Regions from separate parts of the Homo sapiens genome. Here region 1 is linked to region 2. Evidence: fine-mapped expression QTL. A gene starts in region 2. The other region holds a variant in brackets. All regions are shown on one strand. Distances are from middle to middle. Region 1 has its middle 26 kb from the start of PRDM8-AS1. Region 2 holds the start of PRDM8 (PR/SET domain 8).

Region 1 (10,890 bases), 26 kb before region 2:
TTCTTGTTTCTAGTTTAAGGTGGGAGCTTAGATTTTTTTTTTTTAGAATGTTTTTTCCCCCTCTCTTTCTTTTCTTTCCTTTCCTTTCCTTCCTTCTTTCCTCCCTCCCTCCCTCCCTTCCTTCCTTCCCCTCTTTCTTTTTCCTTTCTTCCTTCCTTCCTTCCTTCCTTCCTTCCTTCCTTCCTTCCTTCTTTCTTTCTTTCTTTCTTTCCTTCAAGTCTCACTTTGTCACCCAGGCTGGAGTGCAGCACAAACATAGCTCACTGCACCCTCCATCTCCCAAGCAATACTCCAGCTTTGGCCCCCAAGTAGCTGAGAAAACAGGCGCACATAACTATGCCCAGCTAATTTTGTGTTTTTCTTGAGATGGAGTTTAGTCATGTTGCCAAGACTGATCTCAAACTTCTGAGCTCTAGCGATCTGCCCAGTGTGGCCTCCCAAAGTGCTGGGATTATAGGCATGAGCCACTGCACCTGATCTCTTCTTTTCTGATAGATGTATCTTGTTGTTATAAATTTTAATCCAAACAGTGACTTAGTTGCATCAAAAAAAAATTTATGTATTTTCATTTTTCTTCATTTCAAAATATTTTCTAATTTCTCTCGAGATTTCTGCTTTGATACATGGGTTATTTCAATACGTGTTATTTAACTTCCAAGGGTCTAGAAATTTTCCTGTTAATTTTCTGATATTTGTTTCTTGTTTAATATCCACTGTGGTCAGAGAACATCTTCATATATTCCAAATATTTTAAATTTGTTAATTTTTTTTTATGTTCCAGGACACGTCTTATCTTGGTAAAGATTCCAATTGCATGTGGGAAAAAATGTATATTTTGCTGTTGTTTGGGGGAGTGTTCTATAAATGCCAATTAGATCCAGTTGTTCGATAGTGATACTTTTTTCTTCTATATCCTGCTTGATTTTTTGGTCTACTAGTTATTCTGTTACTGAGAAAATAGTATTGGAGTCTTCAATTATAATTGTATATTAGTCTATTTACCTTTTAACTTCCATTCCTTTTTGTTTTGTGTAACTTAATTACTATTACTAGGTGCATACAGATTGAAGATGGTTTTATCTTATTGATAATTTGACTCCTTTAACATTATATACTGACCCTTTTATTCCTGGTAGTTTTTTGGCTATAAAGTCTATATCAGTAATCAATATAGCCACTGCAGATATCTATTGATTAATGTTTTCAGGTGTTCATTTTTATCATTCTACTATTGACCTAATATTTTTTGATCAAATATATTTGAACACACTATTTTGTAGACAGCATAAATTTGTTTTGTGGTGGTTTTTTTTCCCTGTCTTTTCCATTGGTGTGTTTAGAACATTTTCATTTAATACAATTATTGAAAGTTTGCATTTAGAGCTACCATTTTATTATTTGTTTTTGTTCAGTGTATCTCATTTCTGTTCTCCTGTTTTCCCTTTCCTATTTTAGGTTAAGCATTTTTTAGTATTCTGGATTATATGGTAACTTTGTGTTTAACTTTTTGAGAAATTACCTACCATATCTTTGCCAACACTTATTATTATTTTTTTCTTACAACCATTCTAGTGTTGTGAAGTGGTAGCTAGTGATTTAGGTTTATCCATTGTTTTTTATTATATATTTTGTATAGCTTTTAAGCAATTGCACTAGGGCTTATAAGATAGCATGCTAGTTTTGCACAGTCTACGTAGAATAAGTATTTCACTACTTTAGGTAGACTATAGATACATTACCACCATATGTGTCTTTTTACCCTCCCTCCACATTAAAACCCCATCACAAAATATTATCTCACCTGCAATGTGTGCAGTTGTGATAAAATATACGTGCATAAAATTTACCATTTTAACACTTTTCCTTAAGTGTACAGCTCAGTGGCATTAACTACATTCACACTGTTGTGCAACCTTCACCACTATCCATCTCCAGAACTTTTTCGTTGTTTCAAACAGAAACTCTGTACCCACTAAATCATAACTCTCCTTTCCTCCTCACCCCACTGTTCTACTTTTGGCCTCTATGAATTTTACTAATCTAAATACTTCATACAAGTAGAATTATAAAATATTTGTCAGTTTGTACCTAGCTTATTTTCCTTAGTATAATGTTTTCAAGGTTCATTCTTGTTGTAGTGTGTGGCGGTATATCATTAGGTTTTATGGGTAAATATTATTCCATTGTATACATATAAGATATTCTGTTTATTCATTCATCAGTTGATGGATATTTGGGTTGTTTCCACTTTTTAGTTATGAATAGTGATCCTATGAGCATGGGCATACAAGTTTTTGTGCGAACATATCTTTTAAACTCCCTTGAATATGTTATCAAAGGATAGAATTTCTGGATCATATGATAACTTAACCTTCTGAAGAACTGTCACATCCTTGGCAACACTTGTTATTATCTGTCCTTTTTATTATAACCAATCTAGTATGTGTGAAATGATACCTCATTGTTGTTTTGATTTAAATTTCCCTCATTACTAATAATATTGAGCATCTTTTCAAGTGCCTATTAGTGATTTTTAAATCTTCTTTAGAGAAATGTCTATTTAAATCCTTTGCTCTTTCTTTAATTGCATCACTTTTTTATTATTGAGTAGCAAGGGCTCTTTCTATACTGTAGCTGTAAGACTCTTATCAAATATATGATTTGCAAGTTCTCAATGTTTTTGTTGCTTTTAATTTGAATATCATATTATAGAATTCTTTAGAAAATCCAAAATCATGAAGATTTTACCTCTATGTTTTCTTCTAAGAACATTCAGTTTTTAGGACTTCGATCCATTTTGAGTTAATTTTTGTGTATGGTATGAGGTAAGGGTTTAGCTTCATTCTTTTGCCTGTGGCTATCCAATTGTCCCAGCACAATTTGTGGGGATTATTCTTTCCCCATTAATGTTTTAGGACCCTGTGCACAAAATGAGTTGGCCATGGAGATATGGGTTTAGTTCTAGATTCTCAATTCTGTGCATTGTGTTATGGACTGAATTGTGTTTCCTGCCCCCCATATACATGTATTGAAGCCCTAACCCATCTGTATTTGGAGATACAGCCTTTAAGAAGGTAATGAAGATTAAATGAGGTCATAAAAGTAGGACCTGAACCCAATAGGACGGGTATCCTTAGAACAAGAGAAAGAAACACCACAAGTGCATGCTCACATAGGAGAAGACAGTGAAAAGGCAGCCATCTGCAACTCAGGAAGAAAGTTCATACCAGAAACCATTCCTGATGACACCTTGATCTTGGACTTTCAGCCTCAAGACCTGTGAGAGAATACATTTCTGTTGCTTAAGCCATCCAGTCTGTGATATTCTGCTATGGCACCTAAGCAAATAAATAAAAATGTTTGTCTTGTGCCAGTATCACTCTGTTATTATTACAATTGCTTTGTAGTAGGTTTTGAAACCAAGACATATAAGCTCTCCTTATTTATTATTTTCAGGTTTGTTTTGGTATTCTGAGTTCCTTGCAATTTCGCATTAAGTTTAGAGTCAGCCATCAATGTCAGCAAAGTCAGCTGGGTTTCCAATAAAAATTATGTTGAATCTGTAGATCAACATATTGCCATTTTAACAATATTAAGTCTTACTATCCATGACCATGGTATGTTTTTTCACTTATTTAATCTTCTGTAATTTCTTTTAACAATATTTTGTAGTATTCAGGGTATAAATTTTGCGTTTATTTTGTTAAATTTGCTCCTGTGGGTATTTTATTCTTTCTGATGCTAATATGAATGAAATTGTTTACTTAACTTATTTTCATATTGTTTATTGTAAGTGTATAGACATACAAATTATTCTTGCAGAGTGATTTTGTATCCTGCAAAACTGTTTAACTTAGTTATTAGTATAGCCACGCCAGCTTTCTTGTGGTTGTTGTTTGCTTGAATTTTTTTTTTTTTTTTTAGATAGGATCTCACTCAGTCACACAGTTTGGAGTGCAGTGGCACCATCTCAACTCACTGCAACCTCCACCTCCCAGGTTCAAGTGATTCTCATGCCCCAGCTCCCTAAATAGCTGAGACTGCAGGTGTGTGCCACGATGCCTGGCTAATTTTTGTACTTTTAGTACAGATGGGATTTCACCAAGTTGGTCAAGCTGGTGTCAAATTCCTGGCCTCAAGTGATCTGCCCACCTCAGCCTCCAAAGTGCTGGAATTACAGGCATGAGCCACTGCACCTGGTCTTTGATATTTTTAAATCCTTTTATTTTCAATCTATTTATGTCTTTGAATATAAAGTTTATCCTGAAGACAACATATAGTTAAAGCATGTTTTTAAATCAAGTCTGATAATCTCTGCTTTTTGATTTAATTGTTTAATTTACCCTGATAAGAAGTTTCTGTTGCATGTATTTCATCCAGTATACAATTTATACTTTTCCATTCTTTTGCATGCTCATAATTTGTTGTTAGAAACTGGACATTTTAGATAATATATCTTAGTAACTCTGGAAACTGGTACCCCGCCCCCCTCTAGGATTGCGATTATTATTTTCTTGTTTATTTGTTTAGTGAGTGCTGAGTTATTTTAGTTGAAGTCTATTCCCTGGCTTCCATTCCCTCACTTTTCAACATACACATCATGGTAAGCCTCTGATGCTCTCTGATCAGTGAGGCACAGTTCTGGGTATATCTAACAATTATCCTGGGATAGTAGTGGTACTGGTAAGATTCTCTCCCACCCTTTCGCTGATTACACCTAGCTGTTAAACTCTACTAATTTCTGGCCTATTGCTTAATTGTTTCCAACAGTGCCCTGGAACATAATTTTTTCTTTACAAATAAATCCAATTGGCCGGGCATGGTGGCTCATGCCTGTAATCCCAGCACTTTGGGAGGCCAAGGCGGGAGGATCATCTGAGGTCAGGAGTTTGGGACGAGCCTGGCCAACACGGTGAAACCCCGTCTCTACTAAAAATACAAAAATTAGCTGGGCATGGTGGCAGGTGCCTGTAATCCCAGCTACTCAGGAGGCTGAGGCAGGAGAATCGCTTGAACCCATGAGGCAGAGGTTGCAGTGAGCTGAGATTGTGCCATTGCACTCCAGCCTGGGAGACACAGTGAGACTCTGTCTCAAAAAAAAAAAAAAAAAAAAGATATACAAATAAATCTAATAATATTGTGACACTTTATATGGGAAAGTTTCTGAGATCAGTGTTTGCTATTTGTATTAACTCCAAGAGAGCTCCTGTCAGCTATCTTATTTCCCAGTTCTCTCTTACAAACTAGCTGGCCTACAGTCTAGGCTATATCTTCATTTGGTCCCAAAATTTCCTCTCAATTGCTTTTCACCACAACTTCTACTGTTCTTGAGAGTGCCCTTAAGTTTAAAATTATCTACACTTTGTTTGGAATAAAGTAAGATCCCTTGGGAAGAGATAAAGAGTTGCATGCTTTATGGCCTGATTCTCTCCCTAGGCAAAATTTCTGAGCTAGAGCACGGAGTTGGGGGTGGAAACAATGACAAGCTTCTCTCTGAGTAATACCCTGGCTCTAATTGCTGAATGCTTGGTGGATGGGGTGAGAGAGGAGTTTGCAGGTCTTTCAGCTTGCCACTCATGGTGTGGAAACTTTACTTCAAAGGCCAAGGAAAAGGCTCCCAAGGCTCCAGTATTCCTGTTAACAGCCCAATTGGTTCATCTTACCCACTGCCCAGAAAAGCCAATTCCCTGAAAATAGCAGATACTGCAGCAAAGAAAGAGTTTAAGTATTGAAAGCTCGGAGGCTAAGGATAATTTGGCAGGCAGGGGGTTAGGGACTAGGTCCTGCTGATTGGTTCAGGATGAAATCATAGGTGTATCCAAAATGTTCTTCATGTGCTGAGTCAGTTTCAGGGTAGGGGGTCACAGGATTGGTTAAGTCAGTTC[C/T]CTGGTATGAGTCACAGATCCAGGTGGCATCAACTGGTCAGCCAAAGTGCAAAAGTCTGAAAAATACCTCAAAGACCAATATTGGGTTTTGACAATACCGTTGGTATCTATAAGAGCAATTAAAGAACTTACAAATCTTGTCATCTTCGGAACTGTGGCTGGTTATCATTTAACTACATCTACATCTTACCAGAATTCATTCCCCACTCATAATCCTAAGCTTTTGGCCTTTCATTAGTCCTACAAAGGTGGTTTCAGTCCCCAGAGGGGGTCAGTTTTTGGGGGAGACTATTATCCTTTATTTAAAGTTAAACTATAAGCTAAATTCCTTCCACAATTAGCTTCGCCTACACCCAGGAATGAGCAAACACAGTTAGCTTGTTAAGTTAGAAGTATGGCAGTGTCAGCTAGGTTACATTTCTCTCACTGTCATAATTTTTGCAAAGGTAGTTTCATTCTCAATGCACCACACCCAAGGTAGAACTTCCTTTTTACAAGAAAGTGTTGGGTGGGAGAAGGAAGCTTCCTCCTCCCAGTTGTATTCACCTAAGACTTAGCCTTAGCAACAGACAGCTACGGGCAGGACCAAAAAAGCTCAAGTTATGTCCTATTGCAATGAAAGCCCTGCAGCTGACACCTAAGGAATATAAAGAGTCATATTCTTGGCTGCAGCGTCTGGAGTAGAGTCTCTGCCTCACTGAGCTGGGAGGGGCAAGGAAAGTAGTAGTTTCAGTTCAAATGTCACAGACTCACCTCTCTTGACAGATATTCATAATTTCCTCTAATAGGTATTTCTTTATTTACCATTTGCCCTTAGGACCATTTCCAGAGAATTTAAGTGGTTGTTTCTTTACACACAATTTTCACCAGTTTCACTGAGGAGTGGCTCAGCAGAGTTTCCCACACTGCCATTCTAGAAGTCAATCTATTTCACTTGTATTTATTGTTCAGCTATATATGTTACTTACAAGACTCTTCTTTGCTTTCCACTCCTAATTTTCTGTTTTCCTATAGCTAACTCTGTCTCTCTCCTTTGAAACACTGACTTCCAACTTTATATCAGTCCTCTCAAGTTTTCAAACTCTTAGTTTCTATGAGATTTAGAAATCGGGCTTTTGTTTGTGCTGATGTTTACAGTGAATATTCAAGACTCTGATATTGGCTATAATTTTTTTTTAGAGTTAAAGTCTTCCTTTGTTGCTCAGGCTGGATTGCAGTGGCACAATTTTAACTTACTGTGGCCTTGAACTCCCAGGCTCATGCAATTCTCCCACCTCAGCTTCCTCAGTAGCTGGGACTACAGGAACGTGCCACCACAATCAGATAATTTGATTTATTTATTTATTGCAGAGACAGAATATTGCTATGTTGCCCAACCTGATCCTGAGCTCTTGGTCGCAAGTTATCCTCCCAGCTCAGTCTCCTAAAGCACTGAGATTGCAGGCATGAGCCATGACAACCGGCCTTGAGTATAATTTTAATCTAAGGCTTCAGGAAAGAGAGCATGCTTCTCCACCACTGTCCTCTTCCATTTTTTTGTCTGTGGGTTAGTTCAGGTTCAGGAGGAAGAGACAGGGATGGCAAAGTTGGAAAGAGAAAATGTTACTTCATTCTAAAATCTACACAGTTTGTGAATTCAAGGGAAGCCATTAGTAGGAGTTCCTATTGCTGTGCAGCTGATTTGTTTTGAGGTAGTCACCCTTTGTTGAAGCCTGGCTGGCTTCCTTGAAAACAATCAGCAAGTGACTAACCAGGCATAGTAAGACTGGTGCTGACACAGGAAACCACCAAATGATGAGAGACCTGGGGATGCCCAAAGGAAGTCAATAAAAGCATACTCTCAAATTCTTCCAGATTTTGGCTTGCAAAGCCTCCCAAGACTTCTGGAAATCCTTCCTAAATGCTACTAGGAATGTTCCAGCCAAAGGGCTCTGAGAAATGATTCTTTAAAATCTTGGATGCTTAAGTTTACAAAACCCAGTAAGTTTTTACTTCCAGTTGAAACTGTGCATGAAAAAGATGTTTTCAGAAAGAGTTCTCAGATAATTCTATTTGTGAATAATAGTAGTAATGTAATGGTTATTCTCCATTTGTCTCTCCAAAATCCATTCTCTGTCCTCTCCTGGCTCTATATTGCCAGAGGCTGACTCATGCAGATTCGTTAGCATGCTCCAGAACCTTGCTGGTTAGTTAGCTTCCGGTTGAGTTAGGCCATTGGAAGGCATTAACATGAAATTGGAGCATGTGAGAAAAGAAAAGATGAGTTATTTCTTCCCTGTCCTCTCCTTGCTACACCATTGTCTCTGTGTCAGTAGCTGTTTCTGTAGGTCTCACACTGGGCCCTTCTTCCAAGGTTCTGGTCCTTAGCAGACTGTAGAAACACTAATTCCTCTCCTAAAATCTTCTTGTTATGCTGGTTTCTGTGTCCCTCACTCTCTCGTTTGTTCTCATCACCTGGTCCACATCTTTGTAGCACTCCCTTACCTGAGGATGGGGCAATTATTTCCAAGACCACCAGTGGATGGCTAAAATCACAGATAATACCAAATGCTGTATATACTATGTTTTCTCTGATACATACATACCTCTGAAAATAATTGATTTATAAATTAGACACTGCAAGAGATGAACAATAAGATAAAATAGAACACATATAACAATATACTGTGCACTCCCCTATATATACACATGTACATATATTATATATATACATATAAAGGGGAATTTGTTAAGTATTAACTTACACAATCACAAGGTGTCACAATAGGCTGTCTGCAAGCTGAGGAGCCAGGAGAGCTAGTCCAAGTCCCAAAACTGAAGAATTTTGAGTCTGATGATAGAGGGCAGGAACCATCCAGCATGGGAGAAAGATGTAGGCTGGGAGGCTGGGCCAGTCTCTCCTTTTCACATTTTTCTGCTTCCTTTATATTTGCTGGCAGCTGATTAGATTGTGCCCACCAGATTAAGGGTGGATCTGCTTTCCCCAGCCCACTGACTCAAATGTTAATCTCTACTGGCAACACCCTCACAGACACACCCAGGATCAATACTTTGTATCCTTCAATCCAGTCAAGTTGACACTCAGTATTAACTATCACAACTCCACCCCTTGTCAACTTGAACCCATATATATCTCCTGAGATCATACATAATCTTCAAATAAAGACAATAATAAGGTCATAATTACACTTAAAATAATACAACTATCTTTCGTACAACCGGAAATGCACCAATACCCCCATCCAAATACTATTACATAAAGTTAACAATACTTAAATGCTGATATGAAGTCAATTAATCTTATGTCACATGATAAAGGAAAAGGAAATAAAATGAGGATAATTTCTCAGTACAAGTGTATACATGCACAAACATGTTTTTAACAAAAGAAGGAGGAAATACTCATGACAGTTACAGTCCTCATTTCTGCAGCTGGTCAAGTGGTCATAGCTGGTATTTATGACTACCTTCTCCTACTGCCCATTCTGTATTCCCTTTACCTTCAGCAAGCACCTCAGCAGGTCATGTTTTTTTTCCTGGTGGAGTGACCCAAACCTTCCTTCCTGAGGGGTCTGGACCATTTGTAGTTCTGCCTGGATTGGGCTGTTGTACTTTCCCATTGACCTTAATCACAGGGCATGGTAATACTAAGAGACACCCTAATGGATCACCTGTATTCCGTGCATATTCTTTCCTTACCTCCGTTGTGGAGTAGTAGACTGATTTCATCTTGATAGTCTGGATCAATAACCCCAGCCAACACTATAACTCCCTTCTTAGTCTGTTGACTTAAAGGTAAGAGGACCCCAAAGTGTTCAGATGGAAATCTTAACTTCTAGTTTAATGGAATTGTTGTTGTGTCTCCTGGTGGCAGCGTTCCTCCCTCTGGAACTAAGACCTTTAGGTCTGCAGAACGTGAGGTTATGGGAACAGGAAGCAAAACTTTTGCTAGTGGATAACTAGAGGTGATGGTGAGTGGTGCCACTTCCACTTCCAGCTCTTGATTCCTGGACCTGTGAATCCTGGCTATGGGGGTAACAGAACCATATATTGGACACTGATTCAGAGCATACATGGCCTTCTAGAGAACTTTGCCCTAGCCCTGCAAAGTATTGTCACCTAGTTGGCATTGTAATTGTGACTTCAAAAGGCCATTCTAATATTCTATCAATCCAGCTGCTTCAGGATGTTGAGTAGCATGCTAAGTCCAGTGAATTCCATGAGCATGAGCCCACTGTCACACTTCTTTAGCTGTAAAGTGAGTGCCTTGGTCAGAGGCAATGCTGTGTGGCATATTGTGATGGTGGATAAGGCATTCAGTTAGTCCACAGATGGTAGTCTTGGCAGAAGCATTGCATGCAGTATAGGCAAACCCATATCCAGACTAAGTGTCTATTCCAGTGAGGACAAACCTCTGCTCTTTCTATGATGGAAGAGGTACAATATAATCAACCTGCCACCAGGTAGCTGGCTGATCACCCTGAGGAATGGAGCCATATTGAGAGCTCAGTGTTGGTCTCTGCTGCTGGTCAATTGGGCACTCAGCAGTGGCCACAGCCAGGTCAGCCTTGGTGAGTGGAAGTCCATGTTGCTGAGCCCATGTGTAACCTCCATCCCTGCCACCATGGAAACTTTCTTCATGGGCCCGTTGGGGCGATGAAAGGGGTGGCTGGGGAAAAAGGCTGAATGGTGTCCACAGAACAGGTAATCCTATCCACTTGGTTATTAAAATCTTCCTCTGCTGGAGTCACTCATTGCTGAGCACTCACATGGGATACAAATATCTTCATGGTTTTTGACCACTCAGAGAGGTCCTTCCATGTACCTCTTCCCCAAATTTCTTTGTCACCAGTTTTCCAATACGCTTCTTGCAAGTCCCTGACCATCCAGCCAAACCATTGGCTACAGCCCATGAATCAGTATATAATGGCACATCTGGCCATTTCTCCTTTCATGCAAAGTGCACAGCCAGGTGGCCTGCTCAAAGTTCTGCCCACTGGGAAGA
Region 2 (10,890 bases):
TTGATGTAAAGCCTCTCAATGTTGTCACATTCCCAAGGCCTAGAGTTAGACTTCTCAAAATTTCATTTGAGACTGCTGGACACCAATTTGAGACTGCTAGACATCCCCTGATCTGCAGTCTGCCTAAAAATCCTGACCCAGAGGGTAAGGAGGTTCAGAGTGACTGATGGAGAACTGGCTACAACCAGTCAACCCCCTTCACACTGAGATGCGTTCAAAGGGTGTGGTGTCTGAGTCTAGGAAGGACTTTGGAACCTACAGATTTGACAAAAATCCAAGCCTTTTCTTGCCAGATCTTTACACACTCATCTGGGGAAGAGTATAACATTTGGGAGAACCCAGGGGGTTGAAATAGTGGATATTGGATTTGGTTCAGAGGTCACACTCACACAGATGAGTATGGGGCACTGATTTCATATCTGTTGGTAGTTGTGCACAATGTCACTTCGGTTTGCTAGCCCTTCTAAAAGTCATACTCAGAGGCCATTAAGCCAGTTCACTACAACCCAGATCCAGGAGAGGAAGATAATAACATACAGCTTTCAAAGACTATCCCATTCTCAGCTGAACTCCAACACAAGTGTAAGTAAAACTTGGGAATGGCTAAGAGAGAAAGTTTTAAACTTGAGAAAGGTAGATTATCATTGTAATGATAATGGTGGTAGTAGTAGCTGCAGGAGCAGCAGGATTAAAAGCAGGATCATTTACGAGGAAAAGCCCAAGAGAGAAAAGTATGAGTCAGAAGTAATGATCCCTACAGTTGGGAGCCTGAAGTCCTTCCTCACAGGCTACAAAATTACCCAACCCTGAGTCTCTGGCTTTCCCAGGGCCAGCCTGGAAAACATTTGCTCATGTAATACCCAGTGAGCCAACTACAATACTTAGGGTGAGGAACAGACCTAAACTGAGTTTGCAATGTATACTTATAAAAAACGAGTAGCCCTTCCCACACCCCACCCCCTCACATCATCCTTTACCCAACTCAGCAAGCATGGCTCTTCTCGACTCACCAAAATGTAAAACAAACAAACAAACCCCTCTGGGTCTTTTTAAAAACCCACCATGTATCTTTCTCTTGATAAAGGCAAAGTGGTAGAAAATGAGTTAACAACCCTCTGAACAACATTTTTGGCACAGGCCTGGTGTTTTTCTTAATTGACCAGCCCATCATTTCTGTTTCTCTTTCATGTACAAGTAGTCAGTAAAGTTTATCCCTTAAAAAGTTCCTTATTCTGAATGGTGAGGCTAGGTAATACAATACTCCTCCTTGAAGATCTATTCTCTTCCTCCCTCAACCCTCACAGCCCCTTCCAGAGACCTCCCTGTGGGAAATTAATAAGCTTAGGAAGGAGCTGCCACTGTCTGCTCCATTGGCATCCTCTTATCTTCCAGTGTGTGGGTTTTTTCCCCCCCTTTCACCATGAATTGCCATACTCTTTTGACAATCAAGCCTTTGCTGGCATAGTGCTTTGGCAATAGAGTTAGAGGTGGGTAAGCCAGGACCTAGAAAGATATAGAAAAAGAAAATCAGTGTGTTTTCATTCTCATGGGATAATAATCTTTACGTGAATTATTCTTGGAGATGTTACCTGCCTCTTATCACAGAAGTTGAAATATTTTGGGCTCCATTTTTGAACCCTGGGAAGAGAAAGAGTGTTCCCATTCTAATACTCCCTAAGAATTAAAATTCCCTTTCTTACCCTTTCTCCACCCTCTCACTTAGGTCATAAAAGCCACCTGGGGTGTCATTTATCAACCTCTCTCCAGCCCACTCTTCCAAAATAACACTACAGTTTCCTACATGTGTATTTTTGCCAGGACTCCAAAGAGCCTTGCTAAAGTGGAACAAGGTGAGCATACCCACTCTTCATTGTCATTCTTCTAATTACTTAATTGGAAATAAAATCCTAGGGAAGAGAGCTCCAAATATATGCATAAACCCATTGTTCCATATGAATTACATAAAACTATTGACTAGGTACACTTTTATAGTACTGTCTGAGGCTGAATAAATGCCTCAACCCTTCATTTAGTATCAGTGAATTCCAGTAAGTATTAATGCAGAGTGATTTCAAAGTAGTTTATGTACCATTTTAGCCCATAAATTTCTACAGAAATAAAAATAATTTGTAGATTTTCTTTATCCCCTATTAATTATTGTCATTTAGGACATTTATATTACCAAGCAAAATGTGTACCACTTAAATTACTAGAAAACTCTTCAAGTAAGAATTTCGACTTAATCTTACTTATATTGTTTTGTTATGTCAGTTATTTAACTCATAATAAAAAGGGTAGGTCAGATTCATAAAATGTGAGAAATTCTTATATTTAAGGATCTCTACCTGAAAGCAGTAGGAAAAAAATTAATTAGAGGGCAAAAAAGTGAAACTGAAATGAAGCATCTGTTGGCCAGATTCTCAATAAATTGCTCCCTTCTCAGATGTATAAAATTGTCGCTGTTTTCTAGCTTAAGACATAAAAAGGTCAAGCTGTTCCACCCTCAACTTAAGTACCAAAAACATTATTTTATACAAACTGGAGTCAAGGTTTTAGTACCTCAAAAGAAATATAGTTTAAATGGTCTCTGTATTTAATAAGAGAAAGGCCAGGCACAAGAAAAATGCCTTCCATTTAGAGTTTATTTTCTAAATGTCCACATTCTGGAGTAGAGGCTTACATATTTACAATATGTAAGATAATTTTTTAATGGTTTGCATGGACAGATGACTTTTCCTGAAAGATAAAATTCCAATTCTCTAAATAACAGCAAAAGAAAGCATTAAGGAGTGTTCTGTTAGACAGATTAATGAAATTATGTTCTTAAACACTGCTCCTCACACACCATATTGCATTTATCAGTCTAGTTTCTAAGGGACCACATGACTCTCTTATGGCTACTTTTCTTTCTTAACTTGAAGTTGTTTACACCCGTGCCTCTTCTGCTCTTTATTTTTCTTCTTTCTTCTACTCTGAATTAACTTAAGTTTCTGGCCACTATTCTTCAAACCTGAGGTTTATTTTCCAGATGTTTGAGACATTATTTTCACATTTCTAATGCTTCCACCCATTCTTTAAAGAAGTATTAGGGGACCATGTGTCCATACTTTGTGTGTGTGTGTGTGTGTGTGTTTGTGTGTGTGTAGAGAGAGAGAGAGACTGAGAAGTGAATCTAGTATTCAATGGAGCAATCAGTCAGAAGACAATTGGTAGCTCAGTATAGCTGCAGATTCTTACATACAGGCATGTGAGAGAGCCCTCATTGCACTGAGCCTTGGTCATTAGGAGCCAACCTTAGCCGAAGTAGATAAAATTGCACATAGCCAAAGTACATAAAACTGCACTTCAAGAAGCTTTCTTTGAAAAGTCAGTAGCTAACCTGAAAACTAAGGGATTCCCCATTTTCTCTGAATATATGGGGATTTTGCAGCCCTTCCTTCTGTGAATTTCAGCTTAATTCTAGGCAGCAATTCGGAATTTGCCTGGGGTACTAACCAGAAAAGAGAAGGAAATACACACACACACACACACACACACACAGAGAGAGAGAGAGAGAGAGAGAGAGAGAGAACAAGGAAGAACATGAACTTCATGGGAAAGTCCTTGCACTTGTTTCTCCTCAGCAAAATCCTCCCCTGGCCTCCTGGGACTGCAGTCACCAGGCTGTCAAAGCCTCAATACCCCACTGAGTTCCAGAGAAGGGTCTCAAAGCTGGGAGAGGATCAAACTAACATGGTAAGCTGCTCTTTGCCAACTCCCCAAATACATTATTTCAACACTAGGAAAAACAACAACGAGGCTGTCTCCTTACGTTGTGGTTCTGCCTCCTCCACTTTAGCTAGCTACACAATCCGATTTATCCTAATGCTGACAGATTGCCCACTTCAAAGTAGTGGTGGTGTGTGTGGGGCTGAAGGAGTTGAGAAACTGTCTATACCACTCAAAGGCCTTTCTTCCTTTAGGAGTAGAGAATTGAACTGTGAAAAAGAAGCCCGAGATTCCCCAGCGACGTGGTGTTGCAGCCCCGTTGAAGGAGTCAACTTGCAGGCTGTTAAAGACCTCAAGTCATTAGCATCAGCTGCTGCACTAAAGGGGCAAGTCAGCGCCTCTAAGTGGCTTAGCGCACAAACGAGGCTCCCGAGACGGCCTCGGCAACTCCATCCCCTCCTCCACCACCCGCTGGATGTGAAAAGCTTTCCGGAGCCCATCTTGGTAATCATTTTTATTTTTAATCACCCTTGCCCCCCAACCCCAAGACCTCAGAGTGCCAACAGTACCCATTATAGACTCCCTCTGGGGCTGCGCAGAACGCACCAAGCAGAGGGGGGGAAAAACCCCACGAAAACAAAAACAAACAAAAAAAAAACAGGAACTGTTTGAGTCCAGTAACCTGCGCTCTTCCCACCAACCTCCCACACCCCACCTCCGCCCACGTACCCGTGTCCTGGGACTAGGAGGTACCGTTATGTCCCCTTCCGAGGTCTGGTGACATTCTCACTCCAACCTCATCTCCCAAGCCACGGGAAGGCTGAGCCAAGTTCTCACCAAAGCGCATCCTTTCTGAATTTTGCAGGGGGAAGCTTGGTAGTGTTGGCGCTCCTGAAGAGAGACGACGCCCGTTTATCACCCCCAGGCAACTAGCTGCGCAAATCAGCGGTGGCTCCAGGGCTAGAGAATCCCTGGAGCTAACCGCACCCCTCTCCCTTTCACGGAACGCGGACTCCGGGGAAATACGCACGGGGTCCGCACGCGCTGGGTGTCCAGCTCTCTGTCACAGCTTCTCCAAGTGCCTAGTGAAACGGGGAAAGGCCCTCTCCAATCATTTTGGTACCTTCCTTTCCAATCCTGAAACGATTTTCCCCTCCTAGCAGTCCCAGAGGGCCCGAGCTTTAGGAGGAGGCGGGCCGGGACGCTCTCTGAGAGGCGTTGCCACCCGGGGTAGGCGCTCAGGATCTGCGGGGCGCGGGCAGGCCGGGGGAAAAAGCTGCGAGGCAGGCGGCGCCGGAGGGAGCGCCTGGCCCAGCAAAGAGTTAAAGGGAGGGGACGTGGGCTGTCACGCGTCATTGGGCAGATTATGTGCAGCAAACAAAAAGTGTGTGTCTGCGTGCCAGTCAGTCACTGCATCGGGTCCATCTGTACAACTCTCTCCGTTTCTCCGTCTCTCTCCCTCCCTCCCTCCCTCCACCCCCCCAATCTTTTTCTCCCCATCTCTCCATCTCTCTCTTATCTCTTCAGGAAGAGCCTAAAAGGCGGCAACACCAACACCTCTTGACATGGAAATACACTGATACAATAGGCAAAAGGAAACACTCGATTGCATCTTCCCGGTTCCAGGTGGCCTTATTTGGGAGATTCTATACTGACCTTATTCCTGGTAAGTCTATTTGCATTGATGTGGGAGGGGGATGGGAGGAAGACAGTTTGGTGGAAAGAGTAGAACATTTTGTCTTCCGTCTCCTTATTATCCAGAAGAGAGAGAAAAATAATTCTTGAGGGGCTGTCTACTGCCAGTAATATTGTACAAAAGGAGGAGCGGGTGGTGAGCACTTTGCCGGAGAAGCCGGAGACTGGGGAGCGCGCGGCCGCCAGACAATGCCTGCCTAGAGGGACGGGCCAGTGGCGGGCAGCAGCGACCGGCTTTCAGAAAGCCCCGCCGGCTCTGGGGTATATTCCCAGGGCAGGCGGATAAGAACCTGGGCCTAGAGCGGGGCACGGAGCTGTGAAACGTTGCGTGGCAAAGGCGACCGCACGCGGGCGGGCGCTCCTAGGCTCTTGCCCAGCGGTTATTGTGATGGGCTTGAGGCTCGTGGCGCCTGGCGCTGCGACTCCGACCGCTATTAGCGCGGCGTAGTGAGGACCTTTTTGCCGTATTGTTAGGTAGAACTGCATTTTAATGACTGTGTCCCTGCTGTTGCCCGAAGTGACGGGGCGACCTCCCGGCACAATGAAATGCTTGTGTGAAAGAGATTTTTAAAAGGAAGAGAGAAATTGGGGAATAAAACGCTGAATTGAAGGAAATTGAAAAGAGGAGAATAGGATTCCGTTGAAAAGGAGATAAGAGGTTATGGGGTTTTTAAAATGTATTTTAATTTGAAATGAAAAAATCAGGATGTCTACCTTGTATGGGGTAAAAATGACCAGGGATAGATGATGCAGAATAAAAAAGTTTCTACTTTATGGATATTTTCCCTTATTTCTGCTGTCTGGGAGATACAGCCCAACACTTGACATTTGGGGGATGCAAGAGGATGAATGGAAAATGAGGCTAACCAAAGTTTTAGGCTATGTTAGCTGGAATGGGGGGAAAAAAGCACACCTTGTAATCACACGTGTAAGGTTAACTGGTTAATATAAATTAAAATAAAAATAGATGTCACTGACATTATTCCATAATGAACAGCTTTGCAGGAAAAGAATTAGATCTACTCTTTCCTGCTACTTTAATTATATAAAACATACATAAATAATTGCCAACAGTGACATTATTAGGGAACAACAAACTTGGAGGAATATTTTGATTAGTCTGAAATACTAAGCAATGCAGCTAGTTCAAAGCTAGTTTAAAAATTTAAATACCTGGGTTTTTTTGGGTTTTTTTTTTTTTGTTTTTTTTTTTTTTTTTTTTTTTTAGTGATAAGTCTTGTATGGGGTGTCCAGAGGAAGGAAAATGTCCCTTTATGACACCTTAATAAAGGGCATTGGGGCATTACTTTCTAAATTGCTGCGGATTAAACAGCTGGGGAGCCCACTGAGGAGTGCTCAAGCAGGGCTGCCCCCTCTTGCCCAAAAAGGGTCATATGGGGTAGGGGGAGTGAAAATTTACCAGTCATTACACACAGTATTTCAGACTGGGGACACTTTAGGCCTGTCCTGTACCTGCTCACTTCATGAGCCACATGTGACTCAATCCACCCCCTTGTATAACAAGGTAACCGGGATTCACTCTCATCCATAAATAAGCACGTCCAGAAAAAAAAATTACCTCTGCTTGCTGCTTTTAATTAAAGCCTCAGAGGAACAGTGTTGGATTATGGTAATGAGCAGACATACGTCCCTTCTTGTAGGCTGCAGAGAAAGGTTAGCTGACACAGAATTAGTGGCCCTGACATTCCACTTGAAATCCATTCGCCATGCTCCGCTGTCTCCGCCTGCTCACTAACGCTGTTCCCCTCCTTGGAAGAAAAGAAAAAAATCAGCTCCCGGGCACCCAGTTCAATACATAGGCAGACAGGCACTTTCCCCCAAGGGTTAGAAGTTTCTTTCAGTAAGGGAAGTCTATAGGCTGGTTTAAAAAATTATATATATGTATATATATATATATGTGTGTGTGTGTGTGTGTGTGTGTGTGTACATATATATATAATTCTGCCTGGAACTTCACCTCTAAAACCTACCCAATCCAACATCAAGGTAATGCAAAAATTATCTAGTCTTTCCTAGCCCTTTCTTTTCTTTCTCCCAAGCAGTCAGCTCCAGATCTCCCACTATTCTAATTATTTTAACAAGTATCCCTTAGTTTTCATCTTTAAAATATGCCATGTTTATCTGCTTTAATTTTGAAATAAGAGCTATGCAAAAATCAGGCATGTGCAAGGAAAATCTACCTAGTATTTGGACAGTTCTGCTTGGGTTAATGGCGTTAAAAGCAGTAACATAACTCACTTTCTTGTGCTGTGTGTCTATCTCCAGTGATGGAGGATACTGGCATCCAGCGAGGCATCTGGGATGGAGATGCCAAGGCTGTCCAACAATGTCTGACAGATATTTTTACCAGCGTTTACACCACCTGCGACATCCCTGAGAATGCTATATTTGGTCCCTGTGTCCTGAGCCATACTTCCCTATATGACAGCATAGCTTTCATAGCTCTCAAGTCTACTGACAAGAGAACAGTACCGTATATCTTTCGGGTAAGTCTCCACTGTAGCTGTGTAGGTGTATGAGGGTAATGTCCTGTTGGAAATGGACTAAAAATAATTATAATGACAAGTGGAGATAGGTTTTGCCTGTGGAAAAATGCAATAATGCAAGCAATCCCATTTCACACATCAAAAATTAGAAAAGGAAAATTAAACTCAAATTATTGTCAACTGATTTTTTGGAATAAATGACAAAATTTGATTTGGAATGTTAGAAATATCTAAATCAGTGCTTCAGTTCTGGATTATCCTGGTGATGAACACGACTTCCTAAACTCTGGGAGATTTCACTGGGGTGGAGGCTATTTGCATACTAACTAGTTTCTGCAAGTTCTTTGACAAGTATTGGGTACATCTGCCTTCCATTTGAGGAGGCTTCTTCATCCCCTAAAGATTAGTTTCTTTGGTAATATTAGCTAGTGCCCAGAGTTTGTATTTAAATAAAAATGTTTATGGTTTTGACAGTAAAGCATCATCAAATCCATATGTCTGAATTGGAAGATTCAGACCTCTCATTTCCTATTCTTCTTTACAAAGAAAATCTATTAATTGTTCTAGCCAAGATTAGGAACATGATTGCCATAGCATAATTTCTAAGATCTAAGCTTGCTTTATTTCTGAAACAAACAAAATTCTCCATACCTTTGTAATGTGGAATAACTTAGAAGTAAACTCTCAAGGGGTTAACACTAAATTATAAGAAGAAATTTCCTCATTTAGTATTCAACCAATATATAAAAACGGTGACTTAAATAAACTATATGATTGATGCAGTGTTTCAAAGAATGGTTATCTTGCCTAATGGTTACAAACATGAGGACAGGTCCCAGCTTGGGCCAAACTTTTGGAAGCGTGGTCTCAGACAATTTTTGGAAAAGACTAACATAGAAGAAATGGTCTTGATTCTTCTGATTTCATTCCCTCATGAGGGTCCCTCTCCCCCTCTCCTTCTTGTCTTCTTTCATTTATTTCAAACCGCAGGTAGACACCTCAGCAGCAAATGGTTCCTCAGAAGGTCTCATGTGGCTGCGGTTGGTCCAATCGGCCAGAGATAAGGAAGAGCAGAACCTTGAAGCCTACATAAAAAACGGACAGCTGTTCTACCGCTCTCTCCGCAGGATTGCCAAAGACGAGGAGTTACTAGTTTGGTACGGGAAAGAACTGACTGAGTTACTCTTGCTCTGCCCCTCTAGATCCCACAACAAAATGAATGGTAGGTTGGCTCGCGACCGGCGTGTGGGCCCTTAACTAGCGGGGGAGAGACGCAGGGAGCGGCAGGGGCTCACCCGGCGCGTTGGCGCGCCTTTCTTCCCTTCGGGTGTCTCATAGGAAGATTCTGAGATGTAGTCTGGAATGAAGTTAAACAGATAGGTGAGGATAAAGCGAGGAAACTTGCTTGTTTGCTGTATTCCCTCCAAATCAGGAGGGAAAGTTAGATCAGGTTGGTCATTCTTTTCTCAGGCACTCAGGCCCTGAGAAATGAAGGTGGATTTGTCAAGGGGATGGTGGCAAACTGGCTTGGGGGCGATGCTGAGTAATCATGTGGTGTGCGTGTGTGTGTGTGTGTGCGTGCGTGCGTGTGTGTGGTGTTTGCTCACTAAGCAGGGTCGTCCCCTTACACATGCCTGGAATGCAGCCAACGTTTCCAGTTTGAGTTCCCCTATGTGGCGCATCTGCGTTTCCGCTGCCCCAAGAGACTTCACAGCGCTGATATAAGTCCCCAAGACGAACAAGGCGGCGGCGTGGGCACCAAGGACCACGGGGGCGGCGGCGGCGGTGGCAAAGACCAGCAGCAGCAGCAGCAGGAGGCACCTTTAGGCCCGGGTCCCAAGTTTTGCAAAGCCGGCCCCCTCCACCACTACCCATCCCCCTCCCCGGAAAGCAGCAACCCATCCGCTGCCGCCGGCGGCAGCAGCGCGAAGCCATCCACAGACTTCCACAACCTGGCCAGGGAGCTGGAAAACTCCCGGGGAGGCAGCAGCTGCTCCCCAGCCCAGAGCCTCAGCAGCGGTAGCGGCAGCGGCGGCGGCGGCGGCCACCAGGAGGCGGAGCTGAGTCCCGACGGCATCGCCACGGGCGGCGGCAAAGGAAAGAGGAAATTCCCGGAGGAGGCGGCGGAGGGCGGCGGTGGCGCTGGTCTGGTAGGGGGCCGGGGCCGCTTCGTAGAGCGGCCCCTCCCGGCCTCCAAGGAGGATCTGGTGTGCACACCGCAGCAGTACCGAGCCTCGGGCAGCTACTTCGGCCTGGAAGAGAACGGCCGCCTCTTCGCGCCGCCAAGTCCCGAGACGGGCGAGGCGAAGCGCAGCGCCTTCGTGGAGGTGAAGAAGGCTGCCCGCGCGGCCAGCCTGCAGGAGGAGGGGACAGCCGACGGCGCGGGAGTCGCCTCCGAGGACCAGGACGCTGGCGGCGGCGGCGGCTCCTCCACGCCCGCGGCCGCGTCACCGGTGGGCGCCGAGAAGCTGCTGGCCCCGCGGCCTGGGGGCCCGCTGCCCAGCCGGCTCGAGGGCGGCAGTCCTGCGAGGGGCAGCGCCTTCACTTCGGTGCCGCAGCTGGGCAGCGCGGGCAGCACCAGCGGTGGGGGCGGAACGGGCGCCGGGGCCGCAGGCGGCGCGGGCGGGGGCCAGGGCGCCGCGTCGGACGAGCGCAAAAGCGCCTTCTCGCAGCCAGCACGCTCTTTCTCGCAGCTGTCCCCGCTGGTGCTGGGCCAGAAGCTGGGCGCGCTCGAGCCATGCCACCCCGCCGACGGCGTGGGCCCCACCAGACTCTATCCCGCCGCCGCGGACCCTCTAGCGGTGAAGCTCCAGGGGGCCGCGGACCTGAACGGAGGTTGCGGGTCCCTGCCGAGCGGCGGCGGCGGCCTGCCTAAGCAGAGCCCCTTCCTGTACGCCACCGCCTTCTGGCCCAAGAGCTCCGCTGCCGCTGCAGCCGCGGCTGCGGCGGCGGCCGCGGGGCCCTTGCAGCTGCAGCTGCC

The links.
Region 1: its variant is fine-mapped to the expression of PRDM8 in fibroblasts (GTEx, PIP above 0.99).

Annotation. Positions count from the first base shown.
Region 1 is chr4:80,165,952-80,176,841 of GRCh38, forward strand. No RefSeq gene overlaps it. Among named protein-coding and RNA genes, the nearest start is that of PRDM8-AS1, 26 kb to the right of the region's middle. The variant C/T (reference allele first, on the strand shown) is at 5,886.
Region 2 is chr4:80,192,390-80,203,279 of GRCh38, forward strand. PRDM8 (PR/SET domain 8) reads left to right here and starts at 5,114. Exons shown (of 4, transcript NM_001099403.2): 1 at 5,114-5,374; 2 at 7,690-7,910; 3 at 8,901-9,132; 4 at 9,525-10,890. The coding sequence starts at 7,692. It overlaps PRDM8-AS1 (PRDM8 antisense RNA 1), which reads right to left and starts at 4,955. Exons shown (of 6, transcript NR_183912.1): 1 at 4,739-4,955; 2 at 4,438-4,599. RefSeq lists enhancers at 3,724-4,341, 4,342-4,957, 8,435-9,634 and silencers at 9,997-10,076, 10,537-10,636.